Linked DNA regions of Homo sapiens: region 2 is linked to region 1. Evidence: fine-mapped expression QTL. A gene starts in region 1. The other region holds a variant in brackets. All regions are shown on one strand. Distances are between the middles of the regions.

The links. PIP is the estimated chance that this variant, and not a neighbour inherited with it, causes the effect.
Region 2: its variant is the best candidate, but not a certain one, in a credible set for the expression of EHBP1L1 in whole blood (INTERVAL, PIP 0.79).

The regions. Positions count from the first base shown.
Region 1 is chr11:65,573,390-65,577,769 of GRCh38, reverse strand. EHBP1L1 (EH domain binding protein 1 like 1) reads right to left here and starts at 1,717. Exons shown (of 19, transcript NM_001099409.3): 1 at 1,364-1,717. The coding sequence starts at 1,467. It overlaps FAM89B (family with sequence similarity 89 member B), which reads right to left. Exons shown (of 2, transcript NM_001098785.2): 2 at 3,580-4,380. The coding sequence ends at 4,129. RefSeq lists silencers at 98-392, 1,443-1,542, 1,603-1,662, 1,673-2,092, 3,113-3,632 and an enhancer at 2,603-2,742.
Region 2 is chr11:65,455,504-65,459,883 of GRCh38, reverse strand. It overlaps the pseudogene FAUP4. Among named protein-coding and RNA genes, the nearest start is that of MIR612, 13 kb to the right of the region's middle. RefSeq lists a silencer at 28-87 and an enhancer at 1-586. The variant G/TG (reference allele first, on the strand shown) is at 1,929.

The DNA.
Region 1 (4,380 bases):
AAGTTCCCTTCCCCAAGCCCAAATTGCCAGCGATGGCAGAGCAAGGGTAACTAAGGGGCCTTCCCAGAAAGGGGAAGCGGACAGGGGGTGCCTAGGGAGGGCAGGGCTTGGCTGGGCAGCCTGACTCAGGCTGGGCACGCCCTCCTGGGAAGCTGCAACCTGGGCAGGGGCAGCTTCCCGGCCTGGGCTCCAGGCTAAGCAGCCCAGGAGGCCCTACCCACAGCCGCCTGTGACTCAGCTGCGTTGACACTGCCGGCACCCTCAGCCTGCTGTGCCCAGTGTTTCCCTGGCCTCCCGCAGGATGCTGGAGCAGGAGCCAGAGGCCAGAGTTCAAGTGCCAGCCCCCAAGCTCTCCCAGGCTCTGCTGAAAGATGTGAATGGCCCTCTAGCAGGCCCAGTGTGGGCAAGGCCAAGGATATGGCAGCTGCCCAAGGGACCCCAGCCTCCTGCTTACTCCCCTCCCCCTGGACCCCATGGTCCCTTCCTGCCCCAGCCCTTCCCCTGGGGAGCCTAAATTTAGCCCCGCCTGGCGGGTGAGGCCCCCACAGCTGTGCCCTAATCCAGCCAAGGGAAGCTGACACCAGCAAGCACGTATATTTAGGGTGTGACGCAGGGGCCTGGGCAGCTATGGGTGGCGGCATGTGAACGAGATGCCCCTGAACCTGTTGGTAGTCCAGGCTGGGGCCTGCACCCTCTGGTGAATCACCCCTCACCCTGCCACCTTGCCCTCCGCAACCCTCTCCTCCCGGACCCACAACCTCCTAGGTCCTCAGGCCCCTTTAAGCTGCTCCCCGCCTCCCTCCTCAATCCTCCCAGCACTCAGTTTCCCCTTTTAAGGACATTGTGGAGATGTTTCCAGCCTCCCAGCACTCTGGCTGAAGAGGCGGGAGTTGGAGGGGTTCTTCTGGCTCAACAAGATGGCAGGGGAGGAGGGGGCAACATCTCTGTTCTTAGCTGGACTAAGTAAGGTCAGGGAGGCTCCTGCCCCAGCCCTAGCCACCTGCAGACCTCAAAACTTGATCCCTTTTCCAATGCCACCCTGAACCACCTTTCTGGCACAAGACATGCGGCCTCCCTCCCCCAGCCCTGACCGCAGCTGAGGAAGGAGTGGACACAGGCAGAACCTCAGGCCTGAAAGTCCTGACCCCCGCGCAGGGAAGGCTGCCCACGCCCCCAACTCCAGGGGTCCCACAAATTGCAAGGGCACTTCTGAATCTCCGAGCCTGGGAACGGAACCAGGGCCCAAGCTGGGGTGGGGGCCCATTTGGTCATTGGGCTGGGGGGGCAGAGTCCTCTCAGGCTCAAAGGGCCGGATGAGGTCCCAGCAAGTTCGGGGGAGCCCCCCCGCCTCCCTCCCACTCACCATTTCTTGGTGCACTCCAACACTAGCTCGTGGTAACAGGCCACGAACTGGAACTTGGCCGCCCGCTTGCCCACGCGCTGCAGGCGCTTCCACACCGAGGTCATGGCCCCCGCCACCCCGCCGCCCACTTCTCAGGCCCGGGGCTCCCGCTGGCCCGCCACCGCTGGCCCGGCCCGGGTCCCCATGGCCTGTCCGCGCCGCCCGCCCCGTCCGTGCGGAGGTGTCCCAGGCTCCGACCCGGGACCGCGCTCTCCGCTGCCGCCGCTGGGGCCCGCAGGGTGGTCTGGCTGAGTCTGCGGGGTCGCCTGGGGCGCGTCGGGTGGCGAGCGCGGAGCTGGGAGCGCGCCGTTTCCTGGAGCCGCACCCCCGTCGGAAGGCGGGCGGGGCTCCGGCGCGGGGCGGGGGCCGGGGCAGGAGCGCGGGGGCGGGGCGACCCGGCTTCCGGGGCCTCGCGCCGCGACCCGGGAGCGGGAGCGGGGGCGGGGGAGGGGGGCGTGGAAGGGGTGTCGCCCGACCGCAGTGCCCGCTCGGTGCGCGCAGAGGCTGCGTGGAGAGAGGGCAACCAGCAACTTGGTGCCACCCTAGAGAGCGCTGCCCGGGCCGCCTTCCTTCCTGCCCGCAGCCCTGGGAGGTACGTACTACTGGCCCCCTTTCAACGGCTGGGAAAACTGAGACCCAGAAAGGGGAAGGGACTTGCTCAGAGTCATACTGTGAATGTGGACGAGGACCAGCTCTCAACTCCAAGGTGCAGCCACCCACGTCTTAACCAGAGCAGGAAGGCGTCAGTAACCTCGGTGGCCCAACCTCAGAACCTGACTCTGCTGTCAAGGGGGAAGATAATCCCAAACCCCGACAAGTAGCTGGAGAATCATAACTGACCTCCAACCAAGTGTGACTTTGGGCAAAGCGCTAACACTCTGAGCCTCAGTTTCAACGTCTATTAAATGGGGATAATTGTAGTTCCGCCTTTTAGGGAATCCCTGAGAGGATGAACCTCAGAAGGCATTTAGCAGAAAGCCTGGCTGATTTTGCCATGCCTCCTTATTAAATGGGATGCGCTATAATGGATGGGGAAAACGTGTCATTTTTGTGTATGTTTACTCTCCCTCCCCAGGAAAGCCTGCCTGGAGCGTTAGCAGCTGTGAACCCCTAGATTAGAGCCCTTATCGCCTACCCACCCGCCCTGCATGGTAATGAGCCTCTGCAGGTGTCAGCTGCCCTGGGGCAATAGGTCAGTTTGTTCCTTCCCGCTGCTCTGCAAGGTGTGTAAATGGACAGGAGCCCGGTGCGTGACTGCTACTTGGTTTAACGGGATGTCTGAGTGCCAGGACTGCCATCTGGGCTGCATCTCCAGGAGGCAAATGGCTGCAGCAGGGCGCGGGGATGTGCTGTTCGTCCGCACACCTCGGTGTGCGGCTTCACCTCTTTTCAGGAGGTTGTGAGGTGTCGTGTGCGCGTGTAGGGGGCTGAGTACCCACTGTCTCCGAACGTGCTGGCTTCTTCCGGTGGGCTTGACAACTGGGTTTGGTTCTCAGTCCCAGCGGTGTGGGTCCCCGGTTTCCTAAGAAACCTTCCACAGATAACTGTAAAGACCGCTAGTGCTGTGGGGAGAGCCGGCGGTCTTCACAGACTGAGCGGGGAATACGGGTCCCTGGAACCCCAATCAAACTTCACCGCCGCGGAGTCTCATGCTTGGCCTCCGGGAAGGCCCGAGGTGCCGCGACTTCACTCCCCTCGGCCTCTGCCACCCCTCCCTCCCACCCGCGGGGCGTGAGGTCCCAGGCCGTTCCCGGAGGCGCCTCCCCCGCCCCCGCCGGGGCCCCTTGCTCCGGCGACTCCGGCCACCCATTTCCTGCGCCGCCTCAACCCCGCCCCGCGCGGGGTGGAAAGTTTCCCTCCTCAAGGTGGGCGGCTCCTTCTCCTTCCTTCCCGGCAGGCAGGGAAAGCCCGAAGCGAACTGGGAGGAGGGAGCGGGGGACTCGGAGGTCGCGGGCGAGAGAGGGGAAGTGACTCGACCGCAGTCACCCGGCGGCTGAGCCAGGCTCGGCCAGCAGGCAGCGCCCCCAGCCCCGCCCCGGCGGGACGGCAGGGCCTTCACTCGGCGCGGGGCGGGGGGGGAGGGGGTCTCGGGCGCCACCTGCTGGCAGAGCGCGGGGCCGCACCTGCCACAAACACCGCGGTCTTCCCGCCCCAGAGCCAGCCAGGCAGAGCACAACGACGCTGAGTGTATTTATTTATCTACGCGCCCTGGAGACCGGCCCCTAAATTTAAATATCCAGCACGGGGCCTTGGCCCTCCTGGCCGTGGGTGGTTATTGGGACGGGTCCTGGAGCCCTTCCAGGGCAGAGGAACCCAGAGCCCGGAGGTGGGATGCCCCTGAGCCAGCAGCTGCCGATAGCAACAAAAGGTGAGGAGGAGATGGGAGCCAGGCACTCATCCCAATCCCAGAGACGCCAAGCGGAAGGGAAGATGCTTCGGGCCCCACCGCAAGGCTGAGGGTTGGCCAAGCTGGGGGTGCACACATGTGGAAGAACTGGAGGCCCAGTGCCATGAGCAGAGGCTGTACCCTAGATGCCCGCCCCAGTGCCAGCCAACCCAAGACAGGAGAAAGAGTTTGGCAGTTTCGCCTCTGAGGAATACATGCCTGGCCCTCCTGTGAGGTGAGGCGGTAGGGGGGAAGGCGCAGGCTCCGAAGTCTGAGGGCTTGCCGGAGGGGGAGTTTCTGAGCCTTTTGCATGGGTGCATGCCCCCTGCCCCCCAGCCCTTCAGAGGCTGATGTGGAAGGCATCCTGCAGCCACTGGTCACGGGCATTGTGCGTCTGGGGCACAGTAAGGGGTGGCGGGTCAGGAGGCAGGCTGGCATCGGGAGGCTCCTCGTCGTCAGACAGGCCCGCATCCGGTGGGTAGGAGCTGTCCGAATGGAGGGAGGATGACAGGTCCTGGCAGAAGCTCAGGTCTTGGCACAGGTGTTTGTAGTCCTGGATTGACTCGTACAGGCCCCACAGCTGGCACAACAA
Region 2 (4,380 bases), 120 kb after region 1:
GAGCTACTGCGCTTTGACCTGCAAGAGCCTTTCTTGTGGTTTCTGAGGGAAGGGGTGGGCAGGACAGGATAACAGTTTTAGGACTGCTAGTTTCAGGATTGGTCAATTTCAGGCTCTGGGGCATAGGGGCTGTCCCTTTAGTCTGGTACCGCGCCCTGGGGTGATTAGGGTAGTGACCGGCAGCCTGAAGTGGGAAAGCATGATAAAGGAGATGGTGGGGGGGTGCGCGCTCTGGACTGGTTGGTTTGCATTTGAAAAGCACACTCTCAGGTGAGTTGTTCTCTATCCCTAAGAACTCTTGGAAGAGGTGGTCCCTCCAGTGGGGTCAGCAAGGCTCCAGATGTCAAAGCATCAGAATAAAGAAAATCAAAGACATGGCTAATACAGTGGCCAATAGAATATGAGAGAAGTGTTGATGTATCGCTTCCAAGACTAGGTTATATAGATACAGTGCCGATCAGTGTGCTCTCTCTCTTTCTCTGATCACTTGTTCCAGGGAAAGGCAGCTTCCATGTTGCCAGGAGCTGAGGCCTTTTGCCAACAGCTGTGTGAATGAGCTCTTTCTCATGTGGATCCTCTAACCCCAGTGATGAGGCTACGACCACATGTGTAAGTTATCTATTGCTGCGTACAAGTTAACTCAAAGTTTTCAAATGATTGCAATCTCTTAAGAGACCCTGGGCCAGACACGGTGGCTCATGCCTGTAATCCCAGCACTTTGGGAGGCCGAGGCAGGTGGATCACCTGAGGTCAGGAGTTCGAGACCAGCCTGGCCAATATTGTGAAACCCTGTCTCTACTAAAAATACAAAAAATTAGCTGGCATGGTGGCACACGCCTGTAATCCCAGCTACTCGGGAGGCTGAGGCGGGAGAACCACTTGAACCTGGGAGGCAGAGGTTGCAGTGAGCCAAGTTTGCACCATTGCACTCCAGCCTGAGAAACAAGAGCGAGACTCCGTCTCAAAGAAAGCAAAACAAAACAAAAATAAGACCCTGAGCTGAAACCTCCCAGCTAAACTACTCCCAGGTTCTTGACTTACAGAAACCAGAGATATAATAAATATTTGTTGGTTTAAGCTACTACACTTTGAGGTAACTTTTATGCAGCAATAGATAATACATGTGATACTAGCCTCATTTTATGGATGAAGGCAAAACTCAGAGGGTAAGATGACCAGGTCAAGGTCACGGAATAAACAAGTGACAGAAATGACTTGCCCTCAGAGAGGAGCCTTGCCCATGGTACATTCTCCACAAATATTTGTTGAATTGGCCCATCTTTTTTCTGCTATCATTAACTAAAAATTGAGGCACAATGGTGATTAGTTAAGATCAACATAGCCGGGCGCAGTGGCTCACGCCTGTAATTCCAAGCACTTTGGGAGCCCAAGGTGGGCGGGTCACAAGGTCAGGAGATCGAGACCATCCTGGCCAGCATGGTGGAACCCCATCTCTACTAAAAATACAAAAATTAGCTGGGCATGGTGGTGCGTGCCTCTAGTCCCAGCTACTCAGGAGGCTGAGGCAGGAGAATCGCTTGAACCAGGGAGTCGGAGGTTGCAGTAAGTCGAGATCACGCCACTGTATTCCAGCCTGGAGACAGAGCAAGACTGTCTCAAAAAAAAAAAAACAAAAACCCCCCCCCCCCAAAAAAACCAATGTGAATTAACATGGTAACAGCCTGTATGCCTGTTATTGGGCCAGGGACACTTGTTCTCCATTAGGTGCCTTGCTGACCCAGGGAAAGGCAAAGTCCTGTGTATGTGAACATCTGTCCTCTTTGTTGCCCCAAATCCAAATCTTCTTTCAGGGGAATCCCAGGACAGATAAGAAACAGGACCATTATCAGTCTGGGTCCAATCAGCAAAGAAAAAAAAACACACAATAATTTGAATAGGGAGGAATTTTTTTTTTTTTTTTTTTTTTT[G/TG]AGACAGTCTCGCTCTTTCACCCAGGCTGGAGTGCAGTGGCGCTATCTTGGCTCATTGCAACCTCTGCCTCCTGGGTTCAAGTGATTCTCCTGCCTCAACCTCTTGAGTAGCTGGGACTACAGATGCATGCCACCACGCCTGGCTAATTTTTGTATTTTTAATAGACACGGGGTTTCTTTCTTTCTTTCTTTTTTGAGAGGGAGTCTCGCTCTTTCGACCAGGCTGGAGTGCAGTGGCGTGATATCGGCTCATTGCAACCTCCTCCTCCCAGGTTCAAGCAATTCTCCCTGCCTCAGCCTCCCGAGTAGCTGGGATTACAGGCGCCCGCCACAACGCCTGGCTAATTTTTGTATTTTTTAGTAGAGATGGGGTTTCGCCATGTTGTACAGGCTGGTCTTAAACTCCTGACCTCAGGTGATCTGCCCGCTTCGGCCTCCCAAAGTGGTGGGATTACAGGCGTGAGCCACCACACCCAGCTAGTTTTAACTTTTTAGTACAAAACAATTTCTGATGACTAATGCAGTGAATGGATTTCAGTTCTGTATCTTTTTGAAACATTTTGAACTTGGATTTAAGTTTTGCAACAAGTCCAGTGTTATCACAGACCATTGCAGGGGCACCATCTGTGGTCACACTTACTAATTTTGACCAGTCAACATTAAACTTTTTGAAACTTTTTTTTCTTTTTCTTTTTTCAAGACAGAGTCTTGCTCTGTCACCCAGTGCAGTGGCGTGATCTCGGCTCACTGCAAGCTCCGCCTCCTGGGTTCATGCCATTCTCCTGCCTCAGCCTCCTGAGTAGCTGAGACTATAGGCGCCCGCCACCACGCCTGGCTAATTTTTTTGTATTTTTTTTTAGTAGAGATGGGGTTTCACCGTGTTAGCCAGGATGGTCTTGATCTCCTGACCTTGAGATCCGCCTGCCTCGGCCTCCCAAAATGCTGGGATTACCGGCATGAGCCACTGTGCCCAGCCGACTTTTTTCAACATACAAAAATAAGTCACTTTCAGTGGTTGGATCTGCCATAGGTACCATGTCTAAAAGTTCTTCAATGATATCAAAATTCTCAGCAACACCATGGATAAACATAATTAACTGACTTGTATTATTTACATATGTGCACTCATCAACTGCAATAGAAAATGTCACAAATGATCTCACTTTTTCTCACAACTTATCCTGTAAATTCTCAGCCATATCTTTTACTCTCTGAGCAACAGTTTTTCTGGTTAGGCTTATGTCTGCAAATGCTTCTTTCTGTTCAGGACACATGATTTCCGCTGCACTCAATAGACAGTCTTTTATAAACTCACCATCTGTAAAAGATTTTGAAGCACGGACAATTTTTTCACTTATTATGTAACTGCATTTCACAGCAGCATCACTTATTTTATTTGTATTCGATGATTAATGCTGTAGAAAGTTTAGTCCTTTTCTAAGTTCATTGAGTTTTTCATCATGCATCTTTTCTGTAAACTAGTCAAAATTCTCACCATGGTTTGTTTCATAATGACATCTTCAGTTGTATTCTTTTGACACAGACAAAGTTTGGTTACATATTAAACACATAGGACTATACTTCCACAAAGAAATATGCTTGCTCCCACTTCTCTTGAAACACGCGGCGCTATCAATCCATCTTTCATTTTCCCACTTTTGATAGAGACATAGGAACAAAAAGAGAATTCACTTTTCTTTAAGAGAAACAACAGCGCAAGCCTGATGATAAATGGTGGCTGGCCCTGGAAGAGGGAGGTGTGGAGATGGTGGCAAACTGTAGAGCCTTCCAAAGGGACAGCCACCACTCAGCTAGGGCAGATTGCTGGTATGTGGGAACACAGGCCCAATGTCACCTGATCTCCCCCATTTTTTTTTTTTTTTTTTTGAGACGGAGTCTCTCTCTGTTGCCCAGGCTGCAGTTCAGTGGTGCGATCTCGGCTCATTGCAAGCTCTGCCTCCTGGGTTCACGCCATTCTCCTGCCTCAGCCTCCGGAGTAGCTGGGACTATAGGCGCCCGCCACCACGCCCGGCTAATTTTTTTTTTTTTTTTTTTTTTTTTGTATTTTTAGTAGAGACAGGGTTTCACCATGTTAGCCAGGATGGTCTCGATCTCCTGACCTCGTGATCCACCCACCTCGGCCTCCCAAAGTGCTGAGATTACAGGCGTGAGCCACCGCGTCCGGCCGATCTTCCCAATTTTTGAAGCAAAGCCAGACACTGAATTTTAACACAAAATCAGCTGACTTTTAGACATTGTGAACTAAAGAAAAAAGAAAAAAAAAAGTAACACACCGTGCAGGGCAAACCAAGTAAGTCTAAGTGTCGTGAATTGCCCCTGGACACCAGTTTGGGGCCCCTGTAGCCCCACTCACCTCCTAGCCTGCGGCCAACCACTTCCAGGGTTGTCAGGGCTTCCACCCCACACTGACCCAGGGTGGCTTCATTCTGTA